Linked DNA regions of Homo sapiens. The protein of the gene in region 2 purifies or fractionates together with the protein of the main gene of each other region. This does not show direct contact. Each region holds a gene or a part of one and is shown on either strand. Other genes may lie near its edges.

The links. The genes of interacting proteins can lie anywhere in the genome.
Region 1: the proteins of NCS1 (region 2) and USP24 purify together in Homo sapiens (affinity purification with mass spectrometry; 2 studies listed by BioGRID and IntAct, with this or other methods). This does not show direct contact.
Region 3: the proteins of NCS1 (region 2) and ICAM1 purify together in Homo sapiens (affinity purification with mass spectrometry; 2 studies listed by BioGRID and IntAct, with this or other methods). This does not show direct contact.
Region 4: the proteins of NCS1 (region 2) and ABHD6 purify together in Homo sapiens (affinity purification with mass spectrometry; 2 studies listed by BioGRID and IntAct, with this or other methods). This does not show direct contact.

Annotation. Positions count from the first base shown.
Region 1 is NC_000001.11:55,096,865-55,100,364, forward strand, and holds part of USP24 (ubiquitin carboxyl-terminal hydrolase 24), read right to left. Parts: intron 3,006-3,500; coding exon 2,907-3,005; intron 1,695-2,906; coding exon 1,612-1,694; intron 1,221-1,611; coding exon 1,079-1,220; intron 854-1,078; coding exon 734-853; intron 309-733; coding exon 88-308; intron 1-87. UniProt on the Homo sapiens protein: Ubiquitin-specific protease that regulates cell survival in various contexts through modulating the protein stability of some of its substrates including DDB2, MCL1 or TP53.
Region 2 is NC_000009.12:130,227,703-130,231,687, forward strand, and holds part of NCS1 (neuronal calcium sensor 1), read left to right. Parts: intron 1-3,985. UniProt on the Homo sapiens protein: Neuronal calcium sensor, regulator of G protein-coupled receptor phosphorylation in a calcium dependent manner. Directly regulates GRK1 (RHOK), but not GRK2 to GRK5. Can substitute for calmodulin. Stimulates PI4KB kinase activity.
Region 3 is NC_000019.10:10,277,620-10,281,119, forward strand, and holds part of ICAM1 (intercellular adhesion molecule 1 precursor), read left to right. Parts: intron 1-3,500. UniProt on the Homo sapiens protein: ICAM proteins are ligands for the leukocyte adhesion protein LFA-1 (integrin alpha-L/beta-2).
Region 4 is NC_000003.12:58,244,292-58,247,791, forward strand, and holds part of ABHD6 (monoacylglycerol lipase ABHD6), read left to right. Parts: intron 1-3,500. UniProt on the Homo sapiens protein: Lipase that preferentially hydrolysis medium-chain saturated monoacylglycerols including 2-arachidonoylglycerol. Through 2-arachidonoylglycerol degradation may regulate endocannabinoid signaling pathways.

The DNA.
Region 1 (3,500 bases), on a different chromosome or scaffold from region 2:
TCCCTGCACCACAGCGGTGAGTATGGATGATAACGGAGAGCAGGGGAGGGCAGAAAGTGAGTAAGTGCTGCCTCAGGAAACTCTTACCGCCTGTCCTTAATGAAGGAATAGTAGTGGCCTGCGTGTGCCTGCCCACTGTGTACGATGACACCGACAAGTTCATAGTTTTCTGTGAGGGCAACCTTTTTTCGTGGGGATCCTCCACCGCCCTGATCCACACTTCGCCCATTTTCCCCAACTTCAGAAGAAGAATCTTGGCGAGCCATTCCTGAAACTGTGTAAGGCTCCATGTTTAGCATCCAGGGAAACTATGTAGAAGCAAAAAGACCATATTAACGTTGATTACTAACATATACAGCAGTACCCAGTTAAGTGAGATCCAAATAAGAGGAAGTGTTTTCCTAGTTTAAGCTAGGAACAACTACCTCACCAGTTCAAGTATAAAATCTCAGAAATGTTAAGTCTGGGAACGTCTAAAGTAGCCTCTGGTTTGAGCCCTAAGGAAGGCATTTTCCTTCATAGTAATCACTAGGATGCCTTCTAGAAATGAGGGCCACTGTTTCCAGATCTGCCTATTCCGGTAACAGCAGCTGCCTAAGATAAGGGGCTCTTCATAATGCTGAGACAACAGCCTTAACATGGTAGACAGAATATGAAAATTGAAAAAGGAAAAAAAAAGAAGTGAGTGAGGAAATGAATGGTTGTGAAAAATTTCAGGAAGAAAAAAAGTTACCCTTATTTGTTCATCATATTTAATGGAGCGTCCGCTTTCCCAGTCAAACCCAAATCTCATTAGGTGAATTACCAAGACGCTAGGTAAAGATTTAATACAGGTCCTTTTCACTGTTATTCTCTAAAGAAAAAAAAAAGGAAAAAGAGCAAATCTGAATGATCTCCATGGAGAAAATAAAACAGCACAGTAATTAATGCAAAGGCCTTTCTGATCCATGTGAAAACAAGTAATGACACAATCTAATGGAAATAACAGTAGGAGCTTAATACTGATTTTACATAAAACAAAGACGCACTATGCGAATAACAAATTAATCTTGTTTTTTAAAAAGGGCAAACATAATACCTTTTCTTTACACTTTTCACAGTAGTACGCATTACTTCCTTCTAGAACTTCTCCTCTAACAAATTGGTCCAAAGAAATTTCCAAACTCTGACAAGAAGTCACTCCTAGATTGAGAGCCATGAAAGCTTCTTCACGCTCATATCTGATTAGGAAATAACAGAAAACCCACAATCAACAATGGAATTTAAAACTCTTCAATTATCATAATACCTAAGCTTGAACACAGAACTACATTTTTAATCTGGGAGTCCCTCAATATTTTAAAAGTCCATTACTAAGTTAAAATGCCACTTTGTGACAATTAAGAATTGCCTAAAATTATGAATTTCAATGAATATTTTCTTAAGCCCACAAAGAAATTTTTTCTCCTTCTGGAAGTAGAAAGCAAAGAAATTTAAGTCACTAAATACTTATAGATCTGTTGACAGGGAGAGAGTTCTAAGTCTCTTAACAAATGCAAAATTTACAACATACTAAACAAATCACTTCAAAAGGATGATCATTTTTCCTGTGTCGGTGATATCTTCACTCACCTGTGAGGACAGTCTTTACAGATCTTCTGATCAGAGTAGATGCCCTGAAATGTATTCTTAAAAATTTGGTCTCTCCCCATTTTCTGTTGGAATGAAAAGTTACAGTTTTAAGTGATGCCTCCTGAACTTATGAGTATACAGAATTTTATTAACACATTGCAATTTAAGGACCAAAACAAAACGCGTCATTCTGGTAGTATCAGCTGTGGTGAATGGAGGCTAAACCCATTATTGGCCCCACTGTCAGAGTGATGCAGACGATCAGAAGAGGAAGAGGAGGAGGGATGGGTCAGGTAGAGCTAATGACAAGAGAGTGTTCTCCAGGGTGATTCTGAATCCTTCTCCCTGTGCTACAAGGACCAAGTTAGGGGCAACTCTCAGCAATCTTTTCTTTTTTCTTGTGGATAGAATGCCATCAATTTGCAAGTTACTTTAAAAAATGGAAGAATTGTGCCTACTGATGAGAGGCCAATGCTGGCAGTGACAGCGGGATCTGAGAAGGCAATACCGTTTAGGAAGTCTGCCACATGGCTTACAGGGTAGAGGTAGAGAGCTTTGGGTTTCAACAGCACCACGAATAACTTTTTAATCTGGCTCCTTTCTCCCCTGTGCCAGAGCACTCTCTGCTCTGCACAGGGCCATCAGCTCACCAGTGACTGCAGCACTCTTCTGAGGCCAGATTATTTCAGTAGACACACAGAAAGAATATGTAGGTAGGAATGGTTATTACTATGTAGTAGAGATTAAGAGTTACATACTTTACTGAGCGTTAGATGAATTAAGAAAATATGCAATTCTAGGCCAGGCATGGTACCTCAAGCCTGTAATCCCAGCACTTTGGGAGGCTGAGGTGGGTGAATCTCTGGAGGCCAGGAGTTTGAGACCAGCCTGGCCAACATGGCGAAACCCAATCTCTGCCAAAAAGTACAAAAATTAGCCGGGCGTGGTGGTGCACACCTGTGATCCCAGCTACTCGGGAGGCTGAGGTGCAAGAATCTCTTGTACCTGGAAGGTAGAGGTTGCAGTGAGCTGAGATTGTGCCACTGCACTCCACTCTGGGTGACAGAGCGAGACTCTGTCTCAAAAAAAAAGAAAAGAAAAAAAAGAGAAAATATACAATTCTATTGATCTGTGTTATGTTTTGATGTTTAAACACAGAATACATTATAGTTCTTATGTTAAAGATAATCAATTTCTGATTCGTCAGTTTCATAGTAACCCCAAATGCTAAGACACTATTCTCATACTATAATTAGAGTTTGAGGGAGTTAGAGGGAAAGTACAACTTTTACTACCTTGAGGTATTCATCCATCTGATCAATGAGACTAGTAAAGAATTCATATGCATCCTGCTGTTCTCTCACATAAAGTTCTTTATTCCACATCTTGAAAATCTATATAACAAAAATTAAATGTTTTTAAAGGAAAAGTAGCAATTTCTGAATGTGGTAGAAAGGGAACATGAAAGAGCACTTAAATGCTTATAAAAATCAGGTTCACTATTAGGATGTGGACATTTCTAGTGAAGTGAGACTAGCTTGTATTCAGCCATCCACCCTTTTTTCTAGTCCCCTTACAATCATAACAAGTCTCTGAAATCAAAAGTGGGTACTGGGTAAGATCTAGGCCATGGAACAGAGAATTTCTCTCTTAGAAACAAATCAACCTATGGGGAAAAACACAAGGTGATCCTCCAATATGTGAAACACAGTAAAGCAATGTTTAAAAATAGTATTCTTGGCCGGATGTGGTGTCTCACGCCTGTAATCCCAGCACTCTGGGAGGCCGAGGCAGGCGGATCACCTGAGGTCGGGAGTTCAAGACTAGCCTGACCAACACGGAGAAACCCCATCTCTACTGAAAACACAAAATTAGCCGGGCATGGGGGT
Region 2 (3,985 bases):
TTTGTGATGTGCTAGGTTAGTTATCCATTGCTACATATTACATTACCACAAACAGCAGCTTAAGAACAAACATTAGGAATTTGGCACAGTTAAGCTGGGTGCCTCTGGCTCAAGGACTCTCAGGAGTATGCAGTTCAGCTGTCAATAGGGTTTGCCCAGGTCTATCCTGGATTTAGCAGTGCAAGTTCCCTGTTCTAGGAAACTTCTCAGTCCCGGGAAAATTGGGATACTTGTCAGCCATTGGCCAGGGCTGTGGTCTCATCTGAAGGTTTGGCTGGTGATGACCTGCTTCCAAGCTCACTCATGTGGTTTGGCAGCCTTGTTCCCTTGCCATGTAGACACCTGCACAGGGCTGCCTCACAATATGGCTGCCGGCTTCCCTCAGAGCTTTCCAAGAGAGAAGGAGAGAAAGAGAGCCAGGATGAAAGCCAGTGTCTTTTTATAGCATAATCTTGGAAGTGATATCCATCACTTTTTCTTTTTCTTTCTTTTTTTTTTCTGCGACTGGGTCTCACTCTGTTACCCAGCCACCAGGTCATGGCTCACTGCAGCCTCAACCTCCCAGACTCAGACGAGCCTCCCACCTCAGCCCTCAGCTTTCCAAGTAGCTGGGACTACAGACATTTGCCACCATATCTGGCTAATTTAAAAAAAAAAGTGTTTTTTTTGTTTGTTTGTTTTGTTTTGTTTTTTTTCTGTAGTGTAGAGATAGAGTCTCACTATGTTGCCCAGGCTGGTCTGGAACTCTTGACCTCAAGTGATCCTCCTACCTCGGCCTCCCAAAGTGCTGAGATTACAGGTGTGAGCCACTGCACCCAGCCATAGATTGGTTTTTGAATGCTAAGTCACCTTGCATTCTTAGAATAAACTCCACTTTGCTGTGATGTGTTATTTTTTTATGTATCATAAAATTTGATTTGTTGGCATTTTGTTTAGGAGGTCTACACTGTTTTTTTCTTTCTTTCTTTCTTTTTTTTTTTTTGAGACAGGGTCTCACTCCATCACCTAGGCTGGAGTGCAGTGACATGATTTCAGCTCACTGCAGCCTCTGCCTCCTGGGTTCAAACAATTCTCCTGCCTCAGCTTCCCGAGTAGCTGGGACTATAGGCACCTGCCACCATGGCGCCTGGCTAATTTTTCCATTTTTAGTAAAGATGGGGTTTCACCATCTTGGCTAGGCTGGTCTCGAACTCCTGACCTCAGGTGATCCACCCACCTCAGCCTCCCAAAGTGCTGGAACTGCAGGCGTGAGCCACCATGCCTGGCCAGGCCTACACTGTTTTGAAGCGTCTGTTATTATTATTATTATTTTTCACAAGAAATCCTTTTTCATTGAAGAGACATTGAAAATATGTTTAATGAGAAAACCTCAATTAAAAAGTTTATTTTAAAAAAAACCCCTTATGTATGACTCAGATATAATCACAGTGAACATTTTAGTGTCCAGAGTGATTTTAAAAGAATTGAACACTTACAAAACTTAACACTCAGTAAACTGAGTCACACAGAAATTATATAATTAAAACCAATTTATAAAGGAACTATCACTGTTATTAATATTTCTTTTTTTTTTTTTTTCCAAGATGGAGTCTCCCAGGCTGGAGTGCAGTGGCGTGATCTTAGCTCACTGCAACCTCTGCCTCCTGGGTTCAGACAATTCTCATGCCTCAGCCTCCCAAGTAGCTGGGATTACAGGTGCTTGCCACCACGCCCGGCTAATTTTTGTACTTTTAGTAGAGATGGGGTTTCAGCATGTTGGACAGGCTGGTCTCGAACTCCTGACCTTGTGATCCACCCACCTCAGCCTCTCAAAGTGCTGGGATTACAGGTGTGGGCCATCGCGCCTGGCCAATATTTCCATCATAGAAATGTTTGACGTGTACCTTGACATGTCCCATGGTGAATGCTGATCCGTTGTCTAATTTTTCACAGTCCTCTTTTGCAAATCACCATGTCATATTATTTCCATGACAAGCTTGTCAAAGTGACAAGAGCCCTCGCATGATATGATCCCCCTTTCTATTAGCTCTGCTGGGAAATGGCCTTCTTTCTTCTATAGGGCTGTTCCTTGTGCCTACGCGGTAGTGATTATATCCAATTTGTGTTCTATCATTTTAATGATTTATTTGCCTCCTCAGGTTCCTGATAGCTCATAATTCCTAGATCACTTGCAGTGATGTAAGTCATTGACTTATTCAGAAACTGAGATGAGGCTTATTTTCCACATCATTAAATGTTGAGCCATCATTTTTCATAGCTGCATAATGCTCCATCACATGGCTGGGCCATAATTTAACCAGTTCCACAGTGTTGGACACTCAGGTTGTTGGGAATTTGGGGAAGGGATTAAAAAGTTATCTATTATGGGCCAGGCGCACTGGCTCATGCCAGTAACCCCAGCACTTTGGGAGGCTGAGGCAAGTGGATCACTTGAGGTTAGGAGTTCAAGACCAGCCTGGGCAACATGGTGAAACCCCGTCTCTACAAAAAATACAAAAATCAGCCAGGTGTGGTGGCGGGCACCTGTAATCCCAGCTATTTGGGAGGCCGAGGCAGGAGAATTGCTTGAACCTGGGAGGCGGAGGTTGCAGTGAGCCAAAACCACTCCACTGCACTCCAGCCTGGGTGACAGAGTGAGACTCTGTCTGAAAAACAAAACAAAACAAATTATCTGTTATGGAAACATTCATACACAGTGGCAGAGAGAATAGTGTAATGCTGAGTGGGCGCCTGTGGTCACTCACACCTATCATCCCAGTGCTTTGGGAGGCCGAAGTGGGAGGACTGCTTTAGGCCAGAAGTTTGAGTCCAGCCTAGGCAACATAGAGAGACTCTGTCTCTACAAAAAATATGAAAATTAGCCAGGTGTGGTGGCACATGCCTGTAGTCCCAGCTACTCAGGAAGCTGAGGCAGGAGGATCCCTTGAGCCCAGGAGTTAAAGGCTACAGTGAACTAGGATTGTACCACTACACTCCTGCCTAGGTGACAGTGTAAGACTCTGTCTCTTTAAAAAAAAAAAAAAGTGTAATGTTTTGTACTCATCACTCAGCTTCCGAATCCCCAGTTCCCTGCCAATCTTGTACCATCTGTGCCCTCCCCCCCCACCCCCACTCTTGTGATTTTGAAGCAAATTCAAGACATCATCATACTTAATCCATTTCAAAATGTATTTCTAAAAGATAAAGATTCTTTGAAAAATTCATAAAGCAAAAGCAATCAATAATTCCTTAATATCCTCTGATCTCTAGTTGCTATTCTAGTTTCCTGTTATCTTACTCTTTTTTTTTTAACTTTGTTTACTGAAATCAGAATCAGAATAAAGTCTACCCATTGTAATAGGTTGATAGGTCTCTTAAATTTATTTAGACCATGTGCAGTGGCTGACGCCTGTAATCCCAGCACTTTGGGAGGTCGAGCTGTGTGGATCACTTGAGCCAAAGAGTTCAAGACCAGCCTGGGCAACATGGTGAAACCCTGTCTCTACCAAAAATACAAAAATTAGCTGGGTGTGGTGGCGGGTGCCTGTAGTCCCACCTACTTAGGGGTGCTGAGGCAGGAGGATTGCTTGAACCAGGGAGGGTGAGGCTGCAGTAAGCTGAGATTGCACCACCGCACTCCAGCCTGGGTGATAAAGTGAGATTTTATCTCAAAAAAAAAAAACTTTAATTTTGTTTATTTTTTATGTATTTATTTTTTTGAGGTGGAGTCTCACTCTTTTTGCCCAGGCTGGAGTGCAATGACGTGATCTTGGCTCACTGCAACCTCTGCCTCCTGGATTCAAGCGATTCTCCTGCCTCAGTCTCCTGAGTAGCTGGGATTACAGGCACACACCACCACGCCCAGCTAATTTTTGTATTTTTAGTAGAGATGGGGTTTCACCATGTTGGCCAGGCTAGTCTCGAACTCTTGAACTCAGGTGATCCGCGTACCTTGGCTTCCTAAAGGGTTGGGATTACAGACATGAGCCACCTCACCTGGCCTGAG
Region 3 (3,500 bases), on a different chromosome or scaffold from region 2:
TGGAATTACAGGCGCCCAGCACCACGCCCGGCTAATTTTTGTATTTTTAGTAGAGACGGGATTTCATCATGTTGGCCAGGCTGGTCTTGATCTCCTGACCTTGTGATCTGCCCGCCTCGGCCTCCCAAAGTGCTGGGATTACAGGCGTGAGCCACTGCCCCCAGCCGAGAATTTCTCTTTGCGTCCTTCCTACTTTGGGGACTTCGAATGGTGGGAAAGAGTTATCAAGGCCAAAATAAGGAATTCAAATGAAAACAAAACAAAATCAAAGAAGAAAAAACAGAAGAGCACTGGGCAGGCTAGGCACGTGGCTCATGCCTATAATCCCAGTGATTTAGAAGGCCGAAGTAGAAGGATCGCTTGGAGGCCAGGAGTTGGACACCAGCCTGGGCAACATAGCAAGACCCCATATCTACAAAAAATAAAAAACCTAACCAAGCGTGCTGGCATACTAGTAGTCCCAGCTACTCAGGAGGCTGAGGTGGGAGGATCACCTGAGCCTGGGAGGTCCAGGCTGTAGTGAGCCGTGATGACACCACTGCACTCCAGCCTGGGTGACAGAGAAAGACCCTGTCTCTAAAAAATAAAAACTGGCCAAGTAGCTTTGGGATTAGCCTTGGGTTCCAGTCCCAGCAAGGCCTTTAATAGCTTGGGACATGACTTCTGCATTTACTTTGCAATCAGGTGAGACCTCCTCTGATGGGGAAAATGACACGGTGAGTGACAAAGGATGTTCTCCTATCATTGTGTCAGGGCAAGGAAGCCTCTGGGTAAATGATCAAATGATCAGCTTTGCTTCTGATTTGGAGGGTGGGTGAGCAGATGCTGACCTTCCCAGGTGAGGGAAGTCCCCGAACATTCCCAGCAGCTTCTGGAAACCCCAGGGAAACCTCTTTGAAGGTCTTTTCTGCATCTCTGCCTGATAGGTCTTTTTTTTTTTTTTTTTTTTTTTCTTTTTTTTGACACACAGTCTTGCTCTGTCGCCCAGGCTGGATCACTGCAACCTCCATCTCCCGGGTTCAAGCAGTTCTCCTGCCTCATCCTCTCCAGTAGCTGGGATTACAGGCACCTGGCACCACGCCTGGCTAATTTTTGTATTTTTAGTAGAGACAGGGTTTCGCCAAGTTGGCCAGGCTGGTCTCGAACTCTAGACCTCTGGTGATCCACCCGCCTCAGCCTCCCGAAGTGCTGGGATTACAGGCTTGAGCCACCACGCGCGGCTCTGCCTGATAGCTGAGAGCATAGAACTCCAGGTTTGAGACCTGGCTCTGCCACATTTCTCCCTCTATGACTGTGGGTGCCCCACTTTGCCTTAGTTTTTACCTCTGTGAAATGGAGCAGATGGCTGGCACAGGTAGCAAAGGAGTAAAAGTTATGTGGGAGGGTGGTACCTGAGAGAGACTCTAGCTTGGTCTTGCCCCACCCCTGGTGTAAACATAAAGAAGCCTCCCTGGATGGCTCAATCTTCTCCAAAAAGGTTAGAGGTGTAATTCCTAGAGGAGGCGACCACTAGCTGGGCTTTGAAGGATGTGTAGGAGTTCATAAGGACAGGCATTCTGGGCAGGAGGAACAGCCTGGGCAAAAGTTGGGAGCAGGGAGAAATCTTGATGGAGGCAGGAGGAGGAGGAGGTAGGTTGGTGTAGGCCAGGTGCAGTGGCTCACACCTGTAATCCCAGTGCTTTGGGAGGCCAAAGCAAGAGGATTGTTTGAGCCCAGGAGTTCGAGACCAGCCTGGGCAACATAGCGAGACCCTGTCTCTAAGAAAAAATAAAAAAATTAGGGTACAGTGGCATATGCTTGTATTCTCAACTACTCTGGAGGCTCAAGTGGGAGGATCACTTGAACCCAGGAATTTTTTTGTTTTTGTTTTTGTTTTTTTGAGATGGAGTCTCACTCTGTGGCCCAGGCTGGAGTGCAGTGGTGCCATCTTGGCTCACTGCAGCCTCCTCCACCTCCTGGGTTCAACCGATTCTGCTGCCTGAGCCTCCCGAGTTGCTGGGATTAAGGTGCCCACCATCATGCCCAGCTAATTTTTTTGTATTTTTAGTAGAGATAGGGTTTACCATGTTAGCCAGGCTGGTCTTGAACGCCTGACCGCAAGAGATCCTCCTGCCTCAGTTTCCCAAAGTGCTGGGATTATAGGTGTGAGCCACTGAGCCTGGTCAAGCCCAGGAATTTGAGGTTACAGTCAGCTATGATTGCACCACTGCATTCCAGCCCAGGTGACAGAGAGAGACACTGCCCCTAAAAAAAAAAAAAAAATTGATTGATGGGAGGAAGGGTGAGGTTGGCAGAGCCTTGAATGCCAGGTGGAGGAGCTGGGACTTTCCTTCTTGGGGTGATAGGGAGTCATGGAGGGTTTCTGAGCAGGCCAGGGATTAGATAGCTGAAGGCTGGATTTACTGGAAGCCAATGAGCAGTTGGCTATGGTCCTTGTCCACGCGGCCCATGTTGTGGGCAGTGACCGTATTCAAGAAGGGAAGGACAGACAAGTATTTGAATACTTCAGTGACCAGGATTTGGTAAAGGACTGCAGGTCAGGGTCAAGAAGAGGTGAGAGCAGGACAGACTTCCTCCCCGCTGCACCAGGCAGCTGAGCTGGGTTTCCTCTAGGGGCTGAGGTTTGAGGGTACCTCAAGTTCTGCAAGAGTCTATAGGAGGTGGTAAGAGAGAAGAGCTGGAGGTCAGAGTTTTCTTGACTATATATATATATATTTTTTTGTTTTTGTTTTTAACAGCTTAACAGCTTTCTGTTTTATTTTTAGAGACAGGGTCTCAGGGTCTCACTTTGTCACCCAGGCTGGAGTGCAGTGGTACAATCGTAGCTGACTGCAGCCTCAAACTCCCAGGCTCAAGAAATCCTCCTCCCACCCTTAGCCTCCTGAGTAGCAGGGACTACAGGTGTGAGCCAGCAGGAAGCCCAGCTGGTTTTTTTTTTTTCTTTGGTGTTTTTTGTTTGTTTGTTTGAGACCGGAGTTTCGCTCTTATTGCCCAGGCTGAAGTGCAATGGCAGGATCTTAGCTCACCACAACCTCCGACCCCCAGGATCAAGCTATTCTCTTGCCTCAGCCACCTGAGTAGCTGGGATTACAGGCATGCGACACCACACAAGGCTAATTTTGTATTTTTAGTAAAGACAGGGTTTCTCCATGTTGGTCAGGCTGGTCTCGAACTCCCAACCTCAGATGATCCACCTGCCTCGGCCTCCCAAAGTGCTGAGATTACAGGCATGAGCCACCGTGCCCGGCCTTTTTTTTTTTTTTTTTTTTTTTGAGACAGAGTCTCACTCTGTCGCCCAGGCAGGAGTGCAGTGGTTCGATCTGGGCTCACTGCAAGCTCCGCCTCCCGGGTTCACTCCATCCTCCTGCCTTAGCCTCCTGAGTAGCTGGGACTACAGGCGCCCACCACCACGCCTGGCTAATTTTTTGTATTTTTAGTAGAGACGGGGTTTCACCGTGTTAGCCAGGATGGTCTTGATCTCCTGACCTCGTGATCCGCCC
Region 4 (3,500 bases), on a different chromosome or scaffold from region 2:
AACACTCCTTTAGGGGAGAGACTTGAAAATCAAACAATTGAGAGGCCCTTGAGAAATCAGTGAGGCCATAAGATATTTTTGCAAAAATGGCTTCTTTATGATAGCACAGTGATGACCAAATGTTAATTGGAAGGACTTATCATACCGTAAAAGAGTCTACACAAAATGAAGTCTTTGTTCTAAGAATTCGCACAGGGCTGAGCATGGTGGCTCGTGCCTGCCCACCACTTTGGGAGGGCAAAGCAGGAGGATTGCTTGAGGCCAGGGGTTCGAGAACAGCCTGGGTAACATAGAGAGACCCCATCTCTGCAAAAAATGAAAAATTAGCTGGGCGTGGTGGTGCATGCCTGTGGTCCCAGCTGCTCAGGAGGCTGAGGTGGAAGGATCACTTGGGCCCAGGAGGTCGAGGCTGCAGTGCGCCACTACAGTCTAGCCTGGGCAACAGAGCAAGACCCTGTCTCAAATTAAAAAAAAAAGCAAAAAAAAGCACAGAAATGTAATTGTAACCTAAATTTTGCTTGGTATTTACTATTGCTTTTAAAATAGATAGATTCGATTTTTGTTTTATTTAGATAAAGTACTAAACAAAACTGTATTTTACTTTTAACTATGAAATTCTGAGTGTGGCTTTACCATATATCCTTTTTTCTGGTGTTTATCTTCCTGGGCTACTGAGGTCTCTGGGAAGGAGATTCTGGCTAGAAAGAAGATGTGGATCAGTGCACAAGGACCCTGAATGCTAGACTTTGTGCTGGGAGTGAGAAGTCTTGTCCTGCCAAAGCCTGCCAGTGTTTATTAACAGGGCTCATTTTTTTGTTTAACATCAACTTTGTTCCTGCAGTTGGAAAGTACTGTAGACCAACTTCACCTCCTTTTTTTTTGTTTTGTTTTGAGACGGAGTCTCGCTCTGTCACCCAGGCTGGAGTGCAATGGCTCGATCTCAGCTCATTGCAAACTCTGCCTCCCAGGTTCAAGCGATTCTCCTGCCTCAGCCTCCTGAGTAGCTGAGATTACTGAGATGCCTGCCACCATACCTGGCTAATTTTGTATTTTTAGTAGAGACAGGATTTCACCATGTTGGCCAGGCTGGTCTCGAACTCCTGACCTCAGGTAATCCGCCCACCTGGGCCTCCCAAAGTGCTGGGATTACAGCCCTGAGCCACTGCATCTGGCCACTTCACCTCATTTAGAAAGGCAAAACCCCAGGCTGAGCACAGTGGCTCATGCCTGTAATCCCAGCACTTTGGAAGGCCGAGGCAGGCAGATCATTTGAGGCCAGGAGTTCAAGTCCAGCCTGGCCAACATGGCAAAACCCTGTCTCTACTAAAAATACAAAAATTAGCCGGGTATGATGGTGCACACCTGTAGTCCCAGCTACTTGGGGAGACTGAGGCACAAGAATTGCTTGAACCCCAGAGGCAGAGGTTGCAGTGAACTGAGATCGTGCCACTGCACTCTAGCCTGGGCAACAGAGGGAGACCCTGTCTCAAAAAAAAGAAAGAAAGAAGGAAGGAGAGAGAAGAAAGAAAGAAAGAAAAAGAAAGAAAGAACAAAAAAAGAAAGGCAAAACTGTCTTTGATCTCCCTGCTTTTCCTCTTATTTAAAAGTGCAAGTTTGGCCAACAGGAGAATGTTTTGGGTGCTGAGGTTCTATTTTTTCCATCTGCTATATAGCACACCAATAGAGGGCTATTTTAATTCCTTTCAGCCATGTGGCAAATAGTCACTTACATGATGCTCTTTCTAGCACTTCACCTTTGAGGGGTGACCTGGCTGATGACAGTTACATGTACTCATGCTAATTCAGTGAGAAACGTTCAAATCAAAGCCTGTTGTGGGCTCCACTAGAGCCTGAAGACTTTGGGCTCCTTAAACGTAAAGGGTCAAGTGGCTTTTGGCTCCTGTTTTATCCAGCAGGAGACTGGCTTGTATTTCTGTAGGGCTGTCTTGTTTTAAACATGATTTCAAGCAGGCGGTTATTCCAGACTATCACCACAGCCCCCATCCTGACAAAAGAGGCTGATGTTGCCAGGTCAGTGTATGTGTGACATGTTTCATCACCTTGCTTCTTGGCCAGCATGATTTGTTAAAAGCTGTACCACAGGATACACAACCCCCCTGCCTTCCAGCTGAGCCTCGGACTGATCTGCCTGCCTGTCCCTCCTCTGCCTGTCACTTCTCTAGAGAATCAGGTAGCACGGCTTTCTGGTTCTCTCTGATCCTCCACCCACAGGACCAGCCTGGCTGGGCTGAATTCTCTTTCCCACAGTGCTGCCCAGGTGGCCAAAGCAGGGAGGGGACTGTGGGCTGGGCTGGTTCTTTAATGAGAACCCCCATGAGGAACCAGTTGTCAGAGTTTTGGTGCAAAGCAGGAGAGAGTGAACCATCTAATCAGTACCTCTCCCAGAATCACGAAGGAGATAAGAATTTGTGGTTTATGGATGGTCATGTGTTTCCAGGATAGAACAATAAGAACGTTTATCATTTGAAAAATTTAAATTCCTATCTTCTACCTTAGAGTACTGGACTTTGAGTCTTAAGGACTAAAGTTCCTGCCATGCAGGCATAACCTTTGGACAGTCATGTGGGCAGTAGTCCGCCAGTCATTGAATGTTAATAGAGTGGGCTGCTAGGCTGCATAGTGTGGAGATGGAGGGAGTTTCATCCTCCATCCTTCCAGCATTCACATTTGTATTTCTTTCCTCATAATGAAAAACAGTTAATATTTGGTTGCCGTCTCTAATGGGCCTTTTTTTTTTTTTTTGAGACAGAGCCTTACTCTGTCACCCAGGCTGCAGTGCAGTGCACTGCAACCTCCGCCTCCTGGGTTAAAGGGATTCTAGCTAGGACTACAGGCATGCACCACCACGCCTGGCTAATTTTTGTATTTTTAGTAGAGGTGGGGTCTTGCTATGTTGCCCAGGCTTGTCTCTAACTCCTGGGCTCAAAGTGATCCTCCTGCTTCAGCCTCCCAAGGTGCTGGGATTACAGGTGTGAGCCACGGTGCCTGGCCTCTTGAACTAGTGTAGAGTCCGGGACTGGCCAGTAGAACTTTTGTGATAAGGGAAATGTTCTATATTTCTGCTGTCCAATATGATAACCACAAACTAGTGGCTGTTGAGCATTTGACTTGTGGCTAGTGCAGCTGAAGATTCGAATTTTAAATTTTATTTAATTTCAATTTAATTTTAAGCAGCCACATGTGACTAGTGGCTACCATATTGGACAATACAGATGGACTACTTTATTTGAGGAGTTTGTATTGTAGTTATTTTTTGTTTTTTTGTTTTTTGTTTGTTTGTTTTTGAGAGAGTCTCGCTCTGTCACCCAGGCTGGAGTACAATGGCACAGTCTCGGCTCATTGCAACCTCCACCTCGCGGTCAAGCAATCCTTGTGCCTCAGCCTCCTGAGTTGCAGGGACTACAGGCGCACACCACCACGCCTGGCTAATTTTTGTATTTTTAGTGGAGTCAGGGTTTCACCGTGTTGGCCAGGCTGGT